Linked DNA regions of Homo sapiens: region 1 is linked to region 2. Evidence: fine-mapped expression QTL. A gene starts in region 2. The other region holds a variant in brackets. All regions are shown on one strand. Distances are between the middles of the regions. Region 1 overlaps SEC16A (SEC16 homolog A, endoplasmic reticulum export factor). Region 2 holds the start of DNLZ (DNL-type zinc finger).

What was found.
Region 1: its variant is fine-mapped to the expression of DNLZ in lung (TOPMed, PIP above 0.99).

The regions. Positions count from the first base shown.
Region 1 is chr9:136,453,436-136,465,459 of GRCh38, reverse strand. SEC16A (SEC16 homolog A, endoplasmic reticulum export factor) reads left to right here. Exons shown (of 32, transcript NM_014866.2): 9 at 898-1,040; 10 at 1,720-1,781; 11 at 1,859-1,997; 12 at 2,328-2,573; 13 at 4,186-4,283; 14 at 5,337-5,418; 15 at 5,586-5,703; 16 at 5,905-6,016; 17 at 6,221-6,326; 18 at 7,876-8,016; 19 at 9,294-9,407; 20 at 9,667-9,859; 21 at 11,133-11,351; 22 at 11,950-12,024. Among named protein-coding and RNA genes, the nearest start is that of INPP5E, 20 kb to the right of the region's middle. The variant C/T (reference allele first, on the strand shown) is at 5,475.
Region 2 is chr9:136,359,252-136,368,736 of GRCh38, reverse strand. DNLZ (DNL-type zinc finger) reads left to right here and starts at 4,993. Exons shown (of 3, transcript NM_001080849.3): 1 at 4,993-5,250; 2 at 5,609-5,748; 3 at 6,557-9,254. The coding sequence starts at 5,023. The coding sequence ends at 6,725. It overlaps CARD9 (caspase recruitment domain family member 9), which reads left to right. Exons shown (of 13, transcript NM_052813.5): 8 at 909-1,100; 9 at 1,480-1,521; 10 at 1,892-1,937; 11 at 3,520-3,596; 12 at 4,178-4,254; 13 at 4,336-4,781. The coding sequence ends at 4,435. LOC124902309 (a long non-coding RNA gene) reads right to left here and starts at 5,368. Exons shown (of 2, transcript XR_007061863.1): 1 at 5,285-5,368; 2 at 1-1,113. It overlaps GPSM1 (G protein signaling modulator 1), which reads right to left. Exons shown (of 14, transcript NM_001145638.3): 14 at 9,136-9,485. RefSeq lists enhancers at 2,636-3,525, 3,526-4,416 and silencers at 4,628-4,727, 4,758-5,257, 5,358-5,637.

The DNA.
Region 1 (12,024 bases), 95 kb before region 2:
GGTTTTTTTGAGATGGAGTCTCACTCTGTCTCCCAGGCTGGAGTGCAGTGATGTGATCTTGGCTCACTGCAACTTCTGCATCTCGGGTTCAAACGATTCTCCTGCCTCAGCCTCCTGAGTAGTTGAGATTACAGGTGTTTGCCACCATGCACAGCTAATTTTTGTATTTTTAGTAGAGATGGGGTTTTGCCATGTTGGCCAGGCTGGTCTCAAACTCCTGACCTCAAGTGATCCATCCTCCTCGGTCTCCCAAAATGCTTGGATTAGAGTGTGAGTCACTGTGCCCGGCCTTACTTTCTTAAAGTATTGTTTCAGTTAACATTTTTTCATTTCTTTTTTTTTAAGAGACAGAGTCTCACTCTGTCACCCAGGCTGGAGTGCAGTGGCACGGTCATGGTCTCTGTCTCCTGGGTTCAGGTGGCCCTCCTGCCTTGGATCCTTTCAAAGTGCTGGGATTACAGGCATGCACCACTATGCCTGGCTCCTTATTTTCTTTTTTGCTTGAGGTGTTTTGCTGTCCTTTTTGCTGGGTGCTGTGTGGTCATCGCAGTCTGAATTTGATTTTGTGAAAATGGAAGAGCTCGGGAGTGGGCCAGGCCTGGGAGGATTACGCACCGTGGCAGGAGCCTCAGGGCGGCTCATGAGGGTGTTGCGGGAGCTTTCTCAGTGTACAAGGGAACAGCTTTCATGCTTAATGATTCAGACATTTTTCTTTTCCTGACGTATGCTGAAGTTCTACTTTTAAGTATGATATTAAACAATTACCGACTTTTGAGTTGGAAGTCTGTCGTGATAAATCTAACCTGTGATTTAAGCTGTGTGAGCACATTGAAAATCTAGGCTCAGAAGCATCAGTGACAAGCTGATTGTTTCTTTTTCAATTTATTTTAAATGCAGTTTCATCAAGACCAACTTCTCCTGAAAAATTTTCAGTGCCTCATGTCTGTGCCAGGTTTGGCCCTGGCGGTCAGCTTATCAAAGTGATTCCCAATCTGCCTTCAGAAGGACAGCCGGCCTTGGTGGAGGTCCACAGCATGGAGGTAATGGCACACGCAGAAGCGTGGCGTCACTGCTCTGCTGCCCTGGGGAACTCTCTGCTTTGCAGTTTGTCATCTTCAATTGTCAGACCTTGTCTCTGGACATACGTCCTTGGAAAATGTTTATTCCTGTGAATTTTCAATTTGTAGGGTTTTTCTTCTATTTGATCATATATTTTTCCTCCTAGAAGTCAGTATTGTAAGCGTCTGCCTTGGGTGTTCAACGTGGTTTGATTGTATATGCATTTTCTGTCCTCGTTTTGGGGATGTTTGCTTTATTGGTGCTTTTCAATGATAGATGCAGTGGGTGGGCCCGGTGCTGCCCAGGTGAGGGGGGCGGGTGGGGTGGACGTGCACGGCGCTGCCGAGGTGACGGGGGCTGGCATGCGCCTCTTCCTGCAGCTTCTGCAGGCTTCTGTCACATGTATTGGGGTTCTGCCTCAGTATTTGGGGAGAGAAAATGGATTTCACTACTTAAAATAAAGTTTGAAATCATGGCTGTGGTCCACACAGGCCATGTTCCATGTAACAGCCTCGACAGAGCCTTCACCTGCTGTGGGGCGGGGCAGGTGGGCCATGCCATCCTCTCCTCTCACGGGCAGCATCCGTGCCTGGGTTGGCCGGCCTGCCAGCAGGGTGGCTGCGCACTGGCTGCCACTGACCCACGGCCCTCTCCTCGTAGGCCTTGCTGCAGCACACGTCTGAGCAGGAGGAGATGCGGGCGTTCCCGGGACCCCTGGCCAAGTATGTTCCTTGTTGAGGCATTTCTTTGTGAGCCCGGCCTTGCAGACATCACTGCTCACTGTGTGTTCTTTCTGCAGAGACGACACCCATAAGGTGGATGTCATTAATTTTGCACAGAACAAAGCTATGAAATGTTTGCAGAATGAAAACTTAATTGACAAAGAGTCTGCAAGTCTTCTTTGGAATTTTATTGTTCTCTTATGCAGACAAAATGGGGTATGTTTCTTTCTACTTCTAGAGTGTTTCTTCTTGCTGGTCTTCATTTCGTCTTGGGAATGCTCAGCCTCCCGAAGGAGCAGGGCGGGATCCGCGTGGCCAGCTATGGGAGCCTCGAGGGCCCCCTTAGGAAGCACACTGTAGTGGCTGGGTAGGGAGGGAGAGGGAACGTGCGGTTGGGATGGGATGAGGTTTCAGCCCAGCCTTGCCAGCCTTTCGGGTAGTTGTGGGTCTGGCTGTGTCCAGGGTGGGGCTTTGTGCCTGTGGTGGTCCAACGCGTCCTCACCTGAGAGCCGTTGTTCTCCTTCCTGTTCCTGTTGACCCAAACAGACCGTGGTAGGGACCGACATTGCGGAGCTTCTGTTACGAGACCACAGAACAGTGTGGCTTCCTGGGAAGTCGCCCAATGAAGCAAACCTGATTGATTTCACGAATGAGGCAGTGGAGCAGGTGGAAGAGGAGGAGTCTGGTGAGGCCCAGCTCTCTTTCCTCACTGGTGGTCCGGCGGCTGCCGCCAGCTCGCTCGAGAGAGAGACCGAGAGGTTCAGGGAGCTGTTGCTGTATGGCCGTAAGAAGGTGCGCCTCCTCATCATGGCACCTGGCGCCTGCACATGTCCACTGGGTCGGGCCTGGTGCGGGGTTGCAGCCTTCAGGGAGGGACGTGGCCCCCTCTTGGGAGCATCCGCGCTGCAGTGTGGGGCTTCGGGTCTTGCTGTTTCCTGAACAATGCCTGACTCTTGTATGCCATCCTTCTGGAGGTGTTAATGTTGGTTTCCTTCTAACTGTTTCCAGTGTTGGAGACCTGCAGATTAAATTTTCAGTTATTCGATAAATGCACATGTTGAGCACAGGCCGTGCCCCTGCTGTGTGTGCCAAATCTCGGATGAAATGTGCATGACACAAGTTGTGGCATTCTCACAAAGTCAGACTCGAGTCCACAGCCCAGAAGTCATTGGGAGTTGGGAGGGCACACTGAACCTGTCAGAGGCGCAGTGCATGGAAAGGCCATGGGCAAGAGAGCAGCCAGTGCGTGTAGCGTCCAGTGACTGGGGTCACAGCAGCGTGGGGACTGGGGCAGGTGGGGGGCCTGAGACAGGAGCCTGCTCTGGGACAGTGGGGTTGGGGGGTCCATAGTGACTGCAGCAGTGACACTATGTGCACAGGAGGGGCTGTCTAGGGTGCATGATGTTTGCTTTGGATGTGCTAAGCAGGAGAGAGGCCAGTCTCAGAAGCATGTGTGGCCCTGAACAGCAGAGACATGGGATAGGCTGAGAGTTTTCTGTCCTTTTATATCATGATAAACTCAGAAAGGGCATATTTGACCAGTATTTTTATTTTTTTATTTTTAATTTTTTTTGAGACAGGGTCTCACTCTTGCCCAGGCTGGAGTGCAGTGGCGTGATCACAGCTTAATGTGGCCTCGACCTCCTGGGTTCAAGTGATCCTCCCATCTCAGCCTCCTGAGTAGCTGGGACTACAGCTGCATGCCACCACGCCTGGCTAACTTTTTTTTTTTTTTTGTAGAGACGGGGTTTCACCATGTTGCCAGGCTGGTCTCGAATTCCTGGGCTCAAGCAATCCGCCCACCTTGGCCTCCCAAAGTGCTGGGATTATAGGCATGAGCCACCGCGCCCGGCCTGATCAGTATGAGTCTATTATGGATGTTTTATAACTGATTGAAGTCATGTAACCTGTTAGCTTTTATTAACATCTTTCTCTACTGTAACGTTTTTGCCTCCCAGCCAGAAGTTCTAAATTATGCCCTGGATGATTTTGGTGAAAGGGGAGGCTGCCTTACTGGAGTCACTCTCCGTGTTGACAGGATATTCGCGGAGGCCTCCTGTTAGAACTGGGGAGTTGACTCGAGCGTGTTTCCCAGTGGATGGGGCGGCGTGGTGGGCAGCGCTGCGTGATTAGCCCTGTTTGTGATTAGCGTGCTTGTGTTTTATGCTGAAAATGGATAAAAGCAGCAAATATCTACAAATACCCACTACCACAGGGACTTTGAAACTCAGGAAAATAATGAATCGCTACGTGTCTTTAGTCTCCAAATGGTGAATAAGTGTGTTTTTGAGGCCTTTGGGTTGTTTGTGTATCTGCTGCTGCGTGAGGACACATGGCCTGTCTTGACTCATGTCACGTGAGCGCCGCCGATAACCCACCAAGGTCCCTGAAATGCCTTTTGCAGGATGCTTTGGAGTCTGCAATGAAGAATGGCCTGTGGGGTCACGCTCTGCTACTTGCAAGTAAGATGGACAGCCGGACACACGCCCGAGTCATGACCAGGTACAGTCCCACAGTGGCCTGGTCCAGTGGCGAGCCCTGCTGGCTCCCTGTAGCACGCGGCGTCCGCACCCTGGGGGCAGGCGGCAGGCGGATCTCACTTGACTGTGCTGTGCTCCCACACGAACTCGGGCTTCCTTGGCCTCGAGGCTTCCTTGGGTCGTGTTGTGGAGAGCTTAAAAAGTTTTTAATTAACTGCATGGTTTTTAGTACTTCATGTAAAATCTCAGTGAATTCCTCAGTCTTCATCTTTTATAGCTTTTTTTAAATTTTGAGTTTTGCTCTGTTGCCCAGGCTGAAGTGCAGGGGCGCGATCTCAGCTCACCGCAACCCCTGCCTCCCAGGTTCAAGTGATCCTCACGCCTTGGCCTCCCAAGTAGTTGAGACCACAGGCACCCACCACCACACCCAGCTAATTTTTTGTATTTTTAGTAGAGGTGGGTTTTGCCATGTTGGCCAGGCCGGTCTCAAAACTCCTAGCCTCAAGGGATCTGCCCGCCTTGGCCTTCTGAAAGTGCTGGGATTACAGGCGTGAGCCACCATACCTGGCCTTATCTTTTACAGCTTTTTTTTTTTTTTTAATATTGAGATAAGAAAGAAAAATAAAATATTGAGATGTGTGTACTTTGCCTAAGTGAAATATAAGTCTAATCATTACATCAGAGGGCTTAGGGCTGATTTTTTAAAAAATTTATTTTATTACTATTTTATTTATTTATTTTTTTGAGACAGAGTCTTGCTCTGTCACCCAGGCTAGAGTGCAGTGGCACGATCCCAGCTCACTGCAACCTCTGCCTCCTGGGTTCAAGCGATTCTCCTGCCTCAGTCTCCTGAGTAGCTGGGATTATAGGTGTGCACCACCACACCCGGCTAATTTTTGTATTTTTAGTAGAGATGGGGTTTCTCCATGTTAGTCTCTTAACTTCTGACCTCAGGTGATCCGCCCACTTTGGCCTCCCAAAGTGCTGGGATTACAGGCGTGAGCCATCATGTCCGGCCGGCTTTTTTCTTTTAGCTGAGCCAGCATGGGGTCTTTCTGTGTTTATGTCTGCCTAGGTTTGCTAACAGCCTCCCAATCAACGACCCTCTGCAGACAGTCTACCAGCTCATGTCCGGACGGATGCCTGCCGCGTCCACGGTGAGTGGCACTGCCTGGTGGCTTGCACAGGCTCCACTGCCTGTGTGGAGTTTGCT[C/T]GTGGGTGACGCTGTCACAGGCCGTGAGGTGCCTGGTGAGCCCAGCTGTGTGGAATTGAAATGGCGCTGGCTTCCGGGGATGAGGCTTCGTTTTGTTTTTCCTCATGTTAGTGCTGTGGAGACGAGAAATGGGGAGATTGGAGGCCGCACCTCGCCATGGTCTTGTCCAACTTGAACAACAACATGGACGTCGAGTCCAGGACGATGGCTACCATGGGCGACACTCTGGGTAGGTCAGGGGTGGAGATGGGCATTGGGTGTCGCGGATGGAGCGCCGAAGGCCCGGTTGTCTGTGGCGTTGGCAGAAATCACCAGAACCCGGCCTTCTCGGTCCGGCTGGCGTCTCTGGTGCCTTCTGTGCGCGTCCTTGACTTCTGCAAGCGCTCCCGGTCGCTGAGCCCCCGCCGTGTGTCGTGTCGTCTCTCCGCAGCTTCAAGGGGCCTCTTGGATGCGGCCCACTTCTGCTACCTCATGGCCCAGGCGGGATTTGGTGTTTACACGAAGAAAACTACAAAGCTTGTCTTAATCGGATCCAATCACAGGTAAAGAACCAAGTCAGTGTAGTCCTGTAAGTTTTCCTTTCAAAGTAAAACAAAATCCTTCTCCTTTAGTGAATTCAGAAATGGCCAGAATCATGTCTTTATTTGTCACGTGGTGGGACACACTTCTGGATGATTTGCTCCAAGGTTGACTATGCCAATAATTGGCCATTTTTTCCAAATCAAAATAATTCACTTCCTCTACAGTTTGCCATTCTTAAAGTTCGCAACCAACGAAGCAATCCAGAGGACGGAAGCCTATGAGTACGCCCAGTCCCTGGGTGCCGAGACCTGCCCCCTGCCTAGTTTCCAGGTAAGCAGGTGCTGCCAGCCTGCAGCTGTCATGGCTGGGCAGGCACTCAGTGCTAACAAGCTTTTGGCTACTTAGATTGTTTGAATTGGTATCGAAAAAAATGATGTGAGTTTTTTGGGGGAGGATCTTGAGAAGACATTTGATCTAAAATGCTAAGAAACAAGATCCCATTGAATTGAGGCTTTCCGTTTGCATTTGATTTCAATTATTTTCATGAGCTTTTTTTTTAAGGGAGACAGGGTCTCACTCTGTTGCCCAGGCTGGAGTGCACTGTTTTGATCACTCCCAGGCTCAAGTGATTCACCTCAGCCTCCAGAGTAGCTGGGACTACAAGCAGCACTACCATGCCACACTAATTTTTTTTATTTTTTGTAGAAAAAAACTGTGTTGCCCAGACTGATCCTAAACTCCTGGGCTCAAGCAGTCATCCTCTCAGCCTCCCAGAGTGTTGGGATTACAGGCGTGAGCCACCGCACCTAGCCTGTATGAGCTTTTTTTTTTTTTTTGAGACCGAGTCTCGCTCTGTCACCCAGACTAGAGTGCAGTGGCACGATCTCCGCTCACTGCAAGCTCTGCTTTCTGAGTTCACGCCATTCTCCTTCCTCAGCCTCCCGAGTAGCTGGGACTACAGGCACCCACGACCACGCCCGGCTAATTTTTTGTATTTTTAGTAGAGATGGGGTTTCACCGTGTTAGCCAGGATGGTCTTGATCTCCTGACCTTGTGATCTGCCCACCTCAGCCTCCCAAAGTGTTGGGATGACAGGCGTGAGCCACCGCGCCCAGCCGTACGAGCTATTTTTAATATTTGAGGGCGGTATTCTCTGATGCAGTGTGGGGGTGGTGTCTATAAAACATACATGAGAGGCTGAGCATGGCGGCTCATGCCTGTAATCCCAGCACTTTAGGAGGCCAAGGTGGGTGGATTACCTAAGCTCAGGAATTAGAGACCAGCCTGGGCAACATAATAACACCCTGTCTCTACAAAAAAAAAAAAAAAAAAATACAAAAATTAGCCAGGCGTGGCAGCATGCACCTGTGTTCCCAGCCACTCGGAGGCTGAGGTGGGAGGACTGCTTGAGCCCAGGAGATTGAGGCTGCAGTGAGCTGTGATTGTGCCACTGCACTCCAGACTGGGTGACAAAGTGAGACCCTGTCAAAAAAAATAAAAAAGAATGAAGTATCTAGAGAATGTCTGTGGAGCAGCTTAAGCTACACGGAAGGCAGTGGTCTCAGTGCCGTGCTCTTGGGGCGTTGTGACTGTGAGAGCCGAGTGGCCCCATGAAAGGGGTTGGGGGGAAAGCAGAGTGAGTTTGCTACCAGCTTAGTCGTTTACTTTGCTCTTGAAATCCCTTGGGGAACAGGGACTAGGACTGTGGTCAGCGGGCGTGGTGGGTGGGAGACGATGATGAGTGAAGTGTCCAGAAGAGTTCACAGCTCACAGGGCGATGCTCGGATGCAGGGGAGCCTCAGGGCAGTACAAGGCTTTGTCCATCGGCGATGCTCGGACGCGGGGGAGCCGCAGGGCAGCAAGGCTTCTGTCGTTTCAGGTGTTTAAGTTCATCTACTCCTGCCGCCTGGCGGAAATGGGGCTGGCCACGCAAGCCTTCCACTACTGTGAGGCCATCGCGAAGAGCATCCTGACGCAGCCGCACCTGTATTCCCCGGTGTTGATCAGCCAGCTTGTGCAGGTGCTGCCCCTGGCGCCTGTCCTCGGGATGCTGTGCTGACTGCAGGGAAGGAGGGCTTGCCAGAGCCCCCGGGCATGGGGGTAGCGATGGTTCAGACGCGCATTGTGGTAGGCGCTCAGAACCTGCCTCTTGGGCGGATAAAGATCTTTGAATGGCTTCGTGTTTTGCGTCTTAGCCTGGGAACTCTCAGGCACCGTGTGCCAGCACAGAGCCTTGGCAGCGAGTTTCACAATCAGAAGGAACTACCTGTAGGATACTCTTCTTTTATTGAGACGCAGTCTCACTCTGTCACCCAGGCTGGAGTGCAGTGTGGTGCAATCTCGGCTCAATGCAACCTCCGCCTCCCAGATTCAAGTGATGCTCCTGCCTCAGCCTCCCAAGTAGCTGGGATTACAGGCGCCTGCCACCACGCTTGGCCAATTTTTTGTATTTTTAGTAGAGATGGGGTTTCACCATGTTGGCCAGGCTGGTCTCGAACTCTTGACCTCAAGTGATGCATGCATCTGCCTTGGCCTCCCAAAGTGCTGGGATTACAGGCGTGAGCCACCACGCCCGGCCAGGATATTCTTATTTTGAGGCAATTTAGTCTGGTGGTTGATAGCTTAAGTGTCCAGAGTCCAGCAGCCTTTGCTTGAGTCCTGGCTGTACTGCTGCAGGCCTCAGTTTCTTCGCCTGTAAAACAGAGGCGGCATGACTGACGAGAGTATGGGAGGCGCCCGTGTTGCATCAGGATCTTCACCTCTTGTCAGTAGTTCCATTTGTGAGAACGTGCTCATGGGATACCCAAAAACTGTATTAGGGACATTTTTAGACCCATTTCAAAGTTCAGAGAGTCATTCATGCATGCGTCCTTAGGTGCTCATCCCCCACCTTAGTGGTTACGAACACAGGGCCAAACTTGTGTTCTGCCCCCTCTGTCCCGCTCTGCATCCCCCAAATTCCCGATGAAAGCATGCAGACATTCCTGGGGGAGTCCAGCTTTTGCTGAGTCAGGTCCACGTGGTCAGGTGGTAGTCTCGGGCCAGGCCTGTTCCAGGGGGGTGCCTAGCACTGCCAACCCAGTGCCCGTGGGCCAAGAGGTCGTCTACAGCAACTTCCCAGTCACCCAGCGTCCCATGTGCTGTGTATGTCACCTAAGCACATACTAGAAACATATAGGCAGCTAATTAAACTTTATTGCCAGTGAACACTGAAGCTGCATTGCCCGGCATTTTGAAGACGGCTCACTTGCCATCACCCGGTGGTGACAGGGGCCTTTGATTTTTGCCCGTGTCTAGATGGCTTCCCAGTTACGACTCTTCGATCCCCAGCTGAAAGAGAAGCCAGAAGAGGAGTCCTTGGCCGCACCCACGTGGCTGGTTCACCTGCAGCAGGTGGAGCGGCAGATTAAGGTACAGCCTTGGCTTGGGGTGGCACAGAGGCGTCTGGCAAGGTGGCTTCTGTCCCTGTCATTTCCACACTGAAAGTATGTATCTGTAAAGACAGTGTAACTGCAAACGTGTGCCTATGAGAATTCCCTAATTCCCCAGAAAGGGCTTTGAGTGCCTCCTGTCCTGAAGTAGGGACACAGCAAGCGCGGTGGTGGCAGGCGGGCAGCGCTGCAGAGCGGCCACAGGCGGCTTCCACAGGGCAGGTCTTGTTCTCCCTCAGGAGGGGGCTGGAGTATGGCATCAGGATGGAGCCCTCCCGCAGCAGTGTCCTGGCACTCCGAGTTCCGAGATGGAGCAGTTGGACAGGCCAGGACTCAGTCAGCCAGGAGCCCTGGGGATCGCCAACCCTCTGCTGGCGGTGCCTGCACCGAGCCCTGAGCACTCGAGCCCGAGCGTGCGGCTGCTGCCCTCAGGTGAGCCCAGGTGCGCGGCTGCTGCCCTCAGACAAGCCCCTGCTTCCTGTGGGCTGAGCCATGGCCTGCACCCTTGCCTCCTGGAGAACTGCTTTCAGATGTGGACTGTTGGAGGCAGTGTCTCACACCACCTCGGTGGTTGTGGGGCTCCTCGGTCTCCTCCCTCTTCCCTTCATGCTTCCTCCCCTGAGGAGCCCATGGAGGGGAGGCTCATGGCTTTCCATGTCCATAAATATCCATGTGCTGGCGACACTGCCCTGAGCGCCCGCTGCCTGCTCAGCCTCCCTGCTTGTTTCTCCGGGAGCCTCAGCCGCACCGTGTCTGGGCGGCGCCCTCGGCTGTGCCCCTCTGTAACCTGCTTCTCCCAGTCGGCCCCGTCGGTGGAAGGGCCAGCCCAGAGCTCCAGGGAGTCAAGTCCAGATGCCCCCTCCTCTCTCGCGCTTCTCGGCTTCCTTCGTCAGTGAACCTCACCAGCGCGGCCTGCACGCAGGTCCGCATGCCTGGATGAGCACGGGCTCCTTCCTGCTCGCCTCCTGCTTCTTCCCCAGACCCTCCAGACTCTCCATCTCACCTGAGGACAAGCCAGGGTCCTCACGGTGGCCACAGGCCCTCCAAGCTTGGCCCTGAGCCCTCCTGCCCTCGTGCCATGTCCACTCCCACGCTGTGGACCAGCCACACTCCTGATTTGGGCCCACTGCCCACCCTCCCTGCCTGATGTCCAGTCTGCTTCGTCCTCAGACACCGTTACCACTTCCTGGTTGATTGCTGTCCTTAGCGCTTTCTCTTACTCAGTTCATCTGTCCCGACCCCCATGAGGACCCAGCATTTCTTTTGTTGTTGAAGCATCCAGGGCCCAGCATGGTGCTGGTAGGCAGCAGCCCTCTCAGGTTTTATGTTGAGTCGGAAGAATGAAGGAATGAACGAGTGGCCTGTGTGACCCCTGGCCGTGGAGGAGGGGACTCGGGCCTAGCAGAGCTCTGTGCCAGGCGGCCGCCATGGGCTTGCGTGTGGGCCGGGCCCTGGAGCCCGCGTGCCGCTGTGACTGCTCAAGTGCCCCTCCCCTAGAAAAGGAAGCGGATACTCTGCTTTTCTGCAAACCACGGATGGTGCGGTGGGGTGGTGGCTTCAGGCTTTCTGCTCTGTTGGACCTCCCTTATAAAAGAAATGGGGCTGTACAAAATAACTTGTCATAAACACGTCGAGTGTCAGCTCCTTCCAGTAACTCAAGCTACCCTCAGTAACCCCAGACCTCTTCTCCACCGTTCCCATGCAGCTCCGCAGACGCTCCCTGACGGCCCATTGGCCAGTCCTGCCAGAGTGCCGATGTTCCCAGTGCCACTGCCCCCGGGGCCCCTGGAGCCGGGTCCTGGCTGTGTGACCCCAGGGCCTGCACTTGGCTTCCTGGAGCCCTCCGGGCCTGGCCTCCCACCTGGTGTGCCACCTCTGCAGGAAAGGAGACACTTGCTCCAGGAAGCCAGGAGCCCAGACCCAGGTGGGGCTGCAGAGATGCTGTCTCGAGAGCAGAAGCAGCATGGGGTGTGGTGTTTGTGGGGATTGGTGGAAGAGATTGAAGTTATTTGAGCTTGAAACAACTTACATTACTTGTCTTAACGTAGACCAGAAATTCTGGAAGTTACAGACTGGATGGGTTCAGAGTCTCACTACAACAGCAGTGTTAATGCCAGTTCCTTTTGTAACTTGGCTTTTTGTTGTGAAGCTTAAATGGCCATTTGGGGCAGGGCATGGTGGCCATGGGTCTCCTGGGGTCTGTCTTTAGACGGCCCTGCTGGACGCCTGGTGAGATGCACAGGGGCAGGTCATGAACTGTCTGGAACTCGATTTGGTGGATCTTGTCCCTGGTCTGTGCCTATGTCTACATGTGTGTATATGGACAAAGCAAAACATAGGCCTAGTTTTAAAAATGAAAGAGTGTGCACACATGTGGGAAGATGTTCAGCCTTGGTTTCTGCAGATCATGCTGGTGTGGCGGTAGCTGGGTGGGAAGGTGGTGTGCCTGTTGATCTGTGCGCCACACACACGTCCCGCCTTCTCGTGACTGAGATCATAGTTGCTCTCTTTCCCGTTGACAGGGATAGTGCCGCAGGAGGCGCCTGTTGGAAACTCACTTTCCGAGCTAAGCGAAGAAAATTTTGATGGAAAATTTG
Region 2 (9,485 bases):
AGCCTGGGCCACGGGAGTGAGGCCTGCAAGGCCTCCAGTGCTACGTGCTGTGAGCCGGATGGAGCGTCGCGGGGCAGGGCTGTGTCTGCTTCCCATGCCCCGTCCCAAGTCCCATCCTGGAGGTTGTTTCCAATGGACACCATTGCTGCTTCGGCTAAATGCTGGATGGCACTTTGTCCACATCAGGAGCCTTAAAACGAGACCCCTGGGGCTACAAAGGAAGCCCCGGCCCCCATGAGAGCAGCCCAGGCTCAGAGCTCCTGTCTCAGCCCCACCTCAGCCTCACTCGCGCCTGGCCCACGCCAAGGCAGGGGAAAAGGGCAGATCCAGCTGTGCCCCCATGGGGGTTGGTGTGGCTCCCAGGGCGGGGGCTCCCACGGGACTTCCCGGGAGCGCGTTGGCCAGGGATTAGGGAAGCTGCCAGCCGTTGCTCCAGTCTGGGCAGAAGGGGTTAGGTGAGGGCCTCCCAGCCTCGGCTGCAGGGGTGGTCAAGCCGTCGTGTTTGCACATTCGCTCCTGCGTCTCAGTGTCCGCAGTGAGGACAGGGGTGGTAAAGAGTGCTGCGGTCACGAAGGACGCTTAGCTATGGACAGTCAGGGTCTCCATATCAAGCCGCGTCCAAAATTTATCAAATGTGCACGTGTGGGGGTACATAGCACACGCTGTGTCCACCGGGGGTGCAGGCTTGGGAGGAGACAGAAGGGCAGCAGGGACAACTGTCACATTTACAATCCCCCACGTGCTGACTTCGTGTCCGCAGAGCACACAAATGGAGGGGCTGTGACCAGCCTCCGCGCCCAGCGGCTTGACGTCCTCCGGAGCCTCTGCTTGGAGTTGGGCGGCCGGGCCGAGGGCCCAGGGCAAGCTTGGGGCCCTCACTGAGGGTCGGCCTTGTGCTGTCCCGTCAGGCCATAGCCACGCGGGAGGAGCTGCACGCACAGCACGCCCGGGGCCTGCAGGAGAAGGACGCGCTGCGCAAGCAGGTGCGGGAGCTGGGCGAGAAGGCGGATGAGCTGCAGCTGCAGGTGTTCCAGTGTGAGGCGCAGCTACTGGCCGTGGAGGGCAGGCTCAGGCGGCAGCAGCTGGAGACGCTCGTCCTGGTGGGCCTGGGGCCTGCGGCAGGGAGGGGAGCCGGCGCGTGGGATGCAGGGCCAGGGGAGCACGGAGCCTCAGCCCCGGCCTTCCCGACCCAACCCTTCTCTGTGACGGGCCCCAACCTAACCAAACCCCTCCTGGCAGTGGGGTGAGGGCACACGAGCAGTTCAGGGTCCCAGCAGGAAGTGGGGCTGCAGGGCCGGGGTGGGTCCTGGGCCTGGCCATCAGGCAGCCTAGCAGGTTGTTCTGGGCATGGAGGGGGCCTGGTGTGGCTGAGGGCATGCCCAGGGCTCCCTGGAGGATCCCGCTCTGTGCCCTGCCCACCCTGTGCCTGGGGAGCCCTCTGCCCTCACAGCCCACCCACCCCATTTTCTATGACCACAGAGCTCCGACCTGGAAGATGGCTCACCCAGGAGGTCCCAGGAGGTGAGTGAGACCCCAGCCAGCACGAGGCTGGCCTTCCTTCACCTGGGGTCCTGGCTGAGCTGCCACCAGGCATAGCCCCACACTGCCCGTCACATGGCCCTGCTCGGTGGGCTGGGCTGGGTGGAGGAAGAGCAGGTGGCCAAATGCTAAGGCCTCTGATGGCTCAAGGGGTAAGGTAAGGCACGGACAGTGCCCACCTCCTGGCCGCCCAATGTCCGTCTGCTGGGCACCTGAGTCTCTGAGAAGCTCTGTGCAGGGGGTGACGGCAATGGCTGCACCCAGCTGAGGGCCAAGGGCTGGGGTGGGCAGTGTGGCCGGGTCCAGTCCTTGGCGAAGTGGCCTAATGGGACATCTTGACTCTCTTTGGAAGCTCTCACTCCCCCAGGACCTGGAGGACACCCAGCTCTCAGACAAAGGTGAGGTGGGGACAGCAGTACACCCAGAGGCCTCCCAGCTTCCCCAAGTGAGGCCCATCTTCAGCACAGGCAGCCCGTGCCGCAATGCCTGTGTCAACCCCCACAACCCCCACTCCACAGACAGGGAAACTGGGGCTGGGGATAAGTAAAATGGTCAAGGTCACCTAGAGAACAAACTACAGAGCCCAGCTGGAACCCAGGGCCCCAGCTAGTGGGACAAGTGTCCCCTGGGGTGGAGAGTGTGGGGGTCTGGGCAGCCCCCATGGGCTGCAGAGGTGAGCAGGCCCACCGTCCTGAGAGTGTGGGGCCCCTCTGGGCAGCCCCCACGGGGTGCAGAGGTGAGCAGGCCCAGTCCTGGCTGCTCCAAGCTTCCTCCTGGACAGAGGGAGGTGGTAACGAGCGAACGACCAGGTGCATGAAGCTAGAAGATGGGGCGAGATGGGGCCCCACGTGGCTTGAGGGAAAGGGCTGAATGCAGGGGTGGCCAAGGGCCTGCTGTGTCCCGGTGCAGTGGGGGTAAGGCAGTGGCAGGGGCTTCTAGCGGGCAGGGCAGGCCCCCTCTGCCTGTCTGGGGGAAGGACTGGGTGGCTAGCTGGGAGCAGCTCCCGAGTGTCCAGGAGTGGGCAGTGGTGATGAGGTAGGTGTTTGCACTGAAGGTGCTGTCAGGTAGGGGTTGGGGAGGGCCCAGCAGAGGGGTCCTGGGAGGCTGCACCGGAGTTGGACAAGCTTCCTGAGTACCAGGCCGTGGCCTCCAAGCAGAGGCGGAAGGGGAAGGAGGAGCCGCAGACGGGGAAGTGAAGACCAGCGCCTTTGGCTGCAGCTCAGAACACTTGAACATGGGGATGCCAAGCCCCCATGTAGGCACAGAGGCGAGCAGGACCCAGGAGTCCGGCTCAGGCACTGCCCCCATCCCCCTGGGTGGCTGTGGCAGGAGCAGGGGCAGGTGTGAAGGTTGGAGGGTGAGCAGGGGAGGGGCTGGCTCTAAGGGGCTGCCAATGGCCAGGACAGCCCTGGCCTGGCCCTCACCGCAGTGGGGCTGAGACTGGACGTGCGTGGTTTCTGCCCAAGGGTCCTGATCCCTGGTCTGCCCAGGTCCTGGCGGTTTCTGAGGGGGTCCAGCCGCCTGAAGGTTCTCTCCCAATTGCTGCAGTACCCCTGCCCCCACTTCAGGAGGACCCAGACAGCCACTGTAGCTGTCCCCAACTCTCTCCCCAGGGCCGCCATGCCCACAGATGCTTTGGAGTGATGGGGGACGGTGCTGCTCAGGCCCAGGGTTTAAGTTCCCCCGAGGTCTGGGAGGCGTTCCTCCCTGGCAGGCAGCCAGCTCGGGGGAGGGATGGTCACTGGCGGGAGCGTTGGGCCTGGGCTGGCATCTGGCGGCCTCCTGGAGCAATGAACAGGCAAGCGAGGCCATAAGGCCTCAGTCTCATCTACAGAAAGCAGAGTCTACACTGGACCCATGTGGGGATCCCACCAGGCCTTGGAAGACAGCCCCACTGCAATGCCGGGGAGGGGTGGGGCAGCCGTGCTATACGTGGCCCAGCAGATGGGCAGGTCCCACAGGCACGACTCTCCTTTCCAGGCTGCCTTGCCGGCGGGGGGAGCCCGAAACAGCCCTTTGCAGCTCTGCACCAGGAGCAGGTTTTGCGGAACCCCCATGTAAGGCTTCCCCGGGGTGGGGTCCTCCCAGCCGTGGGCCTCAGGGTGACCGATCACAGGGAGAGTGGCTCCCTGCCCTGGGCACCCCCTGCGGTGGCCCCGACGACAGCTGAGGAGTGACCACAAGGTCTCTGCCCACAGTGCTCGGGGTGCGGTGTCTGGGCTGCGAAGTGGATCCCCCTTTCTTGGGCACTGCAGCAGCTTGGGGGGCTTTTTGGACGTGGATGTGCCTGGTCCTGGTTTTCCGAGGGCCTTTACAGTGGATGAGGAGGTGAACACAGGAGTCCTGAGAGCAAGCACCACCTCGGGCTTTGTTGTAGAAACAATGGCCCGGACCCCAGGCTGGAGCCGTGGCTTGGCCTCCTGGGTGTGTCTTGGCATCTGAAATGCAGGCTACCCACACCGGCTCACCTCCAGGGGTACAGGCAGGTCCCACAGGGAGAGCTTGGCGCTGAGCTGAGGCTGTCTGGGCTCCTCGCCTCCCAACCAGTCTGCAGTTACAGGGGCCAGTGGGGGGCGGGTGAGAAGGACGGGTTCCCTCAGGGGAGCCGGCCGGAGCCCGAGCCTTCCCCCTTCTCCAGGACGCAGGCCTGAGCAGCGGGGAGCCGCCCGAGAAGGAGCGGCGGCGCCTCAAAGAGAGTTTTGAGAACTACCGCAGGTAGGCGGGCGGCCCCCAGGCTTCTCCAAAACGGGCTGGGGAGCGGCAGCCGGGTCGCGCCTGAGACACCTGTCTTCACAGGAAGCGCGCCCTCAGGAAGATGCAGAAAGGATGGCGGCAGGGGGAGGAGGACCGGGAGAACACCACGGGCAGCGACAACACCGACACTGAGGGCTCCTAGCCGCAGCAGCGCAGGCCCCGACCAGGGCACACCCACCGGCCCGGCCTCCTGCCACCCGGGGGTGCCGACGCCCTGGGGCGCAGACTTCCCCGAGCCGTCGCTGACTTGGCCTGGAACGAGGAATCTGGTGCCCTGAAAGGCCCAGCCGGACTGCCGGGCATTGGGGCCGTTTGTTAAGCGGCACTCATTTTGCGGAGGCCATGCGGGTGCTCACCACCCCCATGCACACGCCATCTGTGTAACTTCAGGATCTGTTCTGTTTCACCATGTAACACACAATACATGCATGCATTGTATTAGTGTTAGAAAACACAGCTGCGTAAATAAACAGCACGGGTGACCCGCATTCCCGCTCGGACACTCGCGCGCAGCCCCGCGGCCGTCCCTCCTCGCTGCGGCCCGCGGTGTCCTCGGGGTGCGAGCTGCACGTGGACGCAGGGCCCCCTCAGGCCGCCAGGGGGCGGCATAGCGCAGCGCGCCCCCGACCCGGAAGACGGAAGCCCAAGAACGCCGCTTCCGCCCGGCGCCCACTTCCAAGATGGCGGCGGGGCGGGGCCGGGGCAGGGCGGACGGAGCCGGCGAGCGGGATGCTGCGGACTGCGCTGCGCGGCGCGCCGAGGTTGCTGAGTCGCGTGCAGCCCCGGGCGCCCTGCCTGAGGCGGCTGTGGGGCCGCGGGGCCCGTCCAGAGGTCGCGGGGAGGCGGCGGGCCTGGGCCTGGGGCTGGCGGCGCTCAAGCTCCGAGCAGGGGCCGGGGCCCGCGGCGGCTCTGGGGCGCGTGGAGGCGGCGCACTACCAGCTCGTCTACACCTGCAAGGTAGGCGCGCGGCGGGACGGAACCGGGGACAGACCCGTATCTGACGCTACACGGCCTGCGGGGAGAAGCGGCCCGCCGGGGATCCGGGAGGCGGCGTGGTCAAGTCACAGGAAGGAGTGGAGCCACCCCTTGGGGCTTCTGGGAGGGAGCGGAGGCGGACCATGAGGAGGGGTGGAGCCGTCCCTGGGGCGGGGCCTTCCCGGGAGAGGGCGAGGTTGGGGGTGGGTGGAGCTATCCCTCGGGGGCGGGGCCTTCTCTGGAGAGGGTGAGGTGGCTGGAGCTACCCCTAGAGGGGCGGGTCTTCCCGGGAGGGGCGTGGCGGCCCTCACAGCCTCACCAGCTACCCTGTCCCAGCCAGGTCTGCGGGACTAGGTCCTCCAAGCGCATCTCCAAGCTGGCCTATCACCAAGGCGTGGTCATTGTGACCTGCCCCGGCTGCCAGAACCACCATATCATCGCTGACAACCTGGGCTGGTTCTCGGACCTGAATGGGAAGAGGTGAGGCCTGTACCCCAGGGCTGGGCCAGAAGGCCACCCAGAAGTACCCTGGCCTCCCTGGGGGAACCTTGCCCTAGTGTTGAGGTTTATAGATCTCACCTGGGAAATCCAGCCACCTTATCAATACAAGACACACAGTTAAATGAGAATTTCCTATAAAGCCCAGATAGCTTTTGAGTTTAAGTATGCCCCAAGTAGGGGGTGCGTTTTTATTTGTTAAATTTTGCCAGCCCTGTGGCCCTGCCTCCCTGCCTCTGCCTGCCCTCTGCCATCACTGGCAGCCTTGTCCCTCTCTAGCGTGGAACTTTTTTGCCCTCTGCCATCTTGGGGTGGCTGGCCCACAGCAAGGCTTGGGGTGTGGACCAGGAGGTGTGGCCTGGGCCCTGGCTGCTGGGAGAGCAGTGGAGGTGGTGCCGGGAGCCTGGTCCGGGCCTTGCCTGGCCGGGAGGTCCTGGGCAGGACAGTAACAGCGACAGCAGGTCTGAGACCAGCATGCCAGGTGCTTGGTGGTACCTGGCCCTTGGAGCTGGGACTGTCCTCCCATCAGACCCGGGGCTGCAGATTCTTCCCTCTGGCACATAGGGGGCAGGAGCAGGAGACTGGGTTCCTGAGGCGGCGCATACCGGCAGAGACACAGGGCTGGTGAGGGCACACAGGCCAGCGTCTGAAGTGCCCGTGTGGCCTGATGCCACAGGAGTGCTGGGCCTGGTGCTTGCAGCTCTGGCCTGGCCATGGGGCGCCCTGAGGGGACTGAAGTGCAGGGCGGCTGGGGGGCCCTGAAGAGCCATGTTGCCTCCCTGCCCCCCAGAAATATCGAAGAGATCCTGACGGCCAGAGGCGAGCAGGTGCACCGTGTGGCGGGCGAGGGGGCCCTGGAACTGGTTCTGGAGGCTGCAGGGGCCCCCACATCCACTGCAGCTCCGGAAGCGGGTGAGGATGAGGGTCCCCCCAGCCCTGGCAAGACGGAGCCGAGCTGACTCCTGCGCTCCCCGGCACTGTGGGACTTCGGCCTTCCAGAAGGAGGTTTTGGCCCTGGGCCTCTCTGGACGTGGCCTGTTTTCTATCAATAAACAGACATTACTTCCAGATGCTGGGGCCTGTGGCCCTCGTGGCCTTTCTTTTTCTGGAGTTAGAACGATTGCTCTGAATCCCTGGTGCTGCTGGGTGGGACATAGGAGCCGCAGGACCTCTCGCCTCACCACAGTTCCTTCTACACAGAGTCACCCAGCTCTTGCCCACAGAGGCCACAGTCGCGTGGAAAGGGGGCTGGATGTGGCGTCAGAGCCCTTCCTGGCTGTCGCTGCGTGACTTTGAGCAGGTCACCACCCCTGTGAGCCTCAGCCTTCCTCTGCAAGGCCCTTGCCGCCCCCCTGGCCAGCTCTGGCGGCCTCCCTTCCGTGAGCCAGTGCAGACCTGAGCCCTGGTCCTCGGCCGCCGGCCGTCGGCGAAACAGTGAGCAAACCAGGCTGCCTGCTGGCCCAGGCAGGACGAGCAGCTATGGCGTGGCCGTGTGTTAGGAGCTCCAGACCCCTCCCGGGGGAGCCACCTGGGCCTCCTTCCCTCGGTGGACAGCGCTCTGGACGTCCCCAGGGCCCTCCGAGGTGTGTGGGGTTTGTCTCCCAGCCTTGTCTGTGCGCAGGATGTTCCCGTGTTTATGAAAGCGAGCAAACACAGCAGCCTGTTTATTTGCAGAAGCGTTCTGGGCAGCGTAACCTTCAGCATTCATCACCCGCCACACTCCGGCAGGGAAGAGAATGGGGCGAGGTGGGAGGTGGAGGCAGGACTGAGCACGACAGGGACCCAGTGCGGCCCCTCCCAGCGGGACACGGCCAGGACTGCCAGCTCACATCCGGCCCGTGGGAGGCCGGGGCGCGGCGGCATCGTTCCCAGTGTGCTTGTGGCGTGGGCTTTGCCTCGATTACCCCCTGTCCTTCTTTCAGCCAACAACCCTCTATTATTCCCACCCAGAGCCTTCTGTGCCATTTGTGGAAACTGTCCTCTTCTCGGCTGAGCCACCGGCACCCAGGCCTGCTCCTCCATGGAGGCACTGGCTGGGGGTCTCTTGGGGGCTTGGAAGTGCAGTGGGGCTGGGCTTGGCTTGGCTGCCTCACTGCCTCCAGAGGGCCTGGACCAGCATGTGGGGAGGTCCAGGGAGCCGTCTGGACCTGGAAGTGCAGAATTAGAGCAAGGAGAGCCGCTTGGGCCAACCCCTCCTCTTACGGATGGGGAGATGGCGGCTGGTAGTTGGGATGTGGACGTTACCATGTCTTTTCTGTCTGATGCCAGCACCTCTGGGCCCAGGCTGGCCCTGGAGGGAAATCCTTCCCAAGGCTGGCACGTTCCTAGAGAAGACCTATGGCTACCCCCCGCGTGCCAGAAGCATCCCGCCAGCTCCTGCCTGAGGCCCCCTGGACCCTGTCTCCCTCCGCCCTTCCCTCCCCGCAGCCCCAATCCCACAGCCAGGTTTCTGCAAGGGGCTTTGCCATCCTAATCTCCTGCCACTCTACACCCCCCCGCCCCAGGACATCCCTGCCTCCCGGGCACGGTTGCTGGCCTGGGCATCCCTCGTCACAGCGTCTCTCCAAGCAGGTTCCTCGGCCGCACCTTCAGAGGCTGTCCCAGCCAGTAGCGTGGGCGGCACTGCTGCGCTTCCCTGGCTGTGCGCGGTCCTGGGCCCTGCACGGTTACTTGGACCCTGTGTGCGTGTACCACCACACGCAAGCTGGCTGGGACCCTGGACCTGGAGTACACGTTGATTCTGGTTCCCAAGGCCCCTTCTGGGGTGGAGGAGGCAACGGAGTCAACCAGCACAGAGGCTGTGGCTGCCAACATGGCCAGGTGGGCTGTGGCGAGGGGCAGCAGGACTGCCCGGCGCACCTGTGTGTCCCCTGACGGGGGCCCCGTGGGGGTGCCACCCACCACAAGCAGCGCCCAGACAAGCCCCAAGACTGCAGATCTGCCGTCGGCTCCTCCACTGTGGCTCAGTGTCCAGACCCTGAGCCCAGCCGGATCAGACTCCAGGAAAGGACCTCCCTCCCCCGGGTGCTGGGTGGGCGGCAGCAGGCTGGGTCCTCAGGGGGTCGTGGGGCTGACCTGGGGGCTGCTGCTTCTGGGGGCTGGTCCCGGCCACGTGAGTGTCAGCTCAGAGCATGCTCTGTTTCCCTAGGGGCTGGGAGCGTGAGGAGGTAGGGGTGCAGGAATCAGTGGTGACAGCAGGCAGCCACTTCACCCCTCTGTGCCCCAGCTCCCCCGTGGTTAAATGCAGTGGGAACTCCATCTCTCTGAGGTCTCAGAGGGCCCAGACAGTGGGTATCTGTGGACACTTTGCACAGTGCAGCCTCTTACCGGGTTAGGCCCCCACCCGGGACTAAGCCCATACGGACCACACTCACTTGGCCGACTTTATTTTTCAGGAAAAACAGAAAAACAAATGTACCTCTTGGGTTGGAAAGGACCCATTGACAACATGGCACAGACGTGAGCAATAAATACGCACATACATTCAAGTATGCGGGGGGGCGCTACGTCCTGGAGACCCTGTGTTCGGGCACCTGTCCCTGCTCTCGGGTGCGGCCCTGCCCCTCCAGAAGCAGGTCACCTCACCAGGCCCAGATCTGCCTCTCCATCCTAGCCTGAGAGTGGGGCCTAGAGGCACCCTCCTAGATGGAACTGCCAGCCCTGGGGGCTGTGGGGCCATGGTAGGGCCCTTGGCAGTCTTGGGAGGTGCCAAGGCTGGG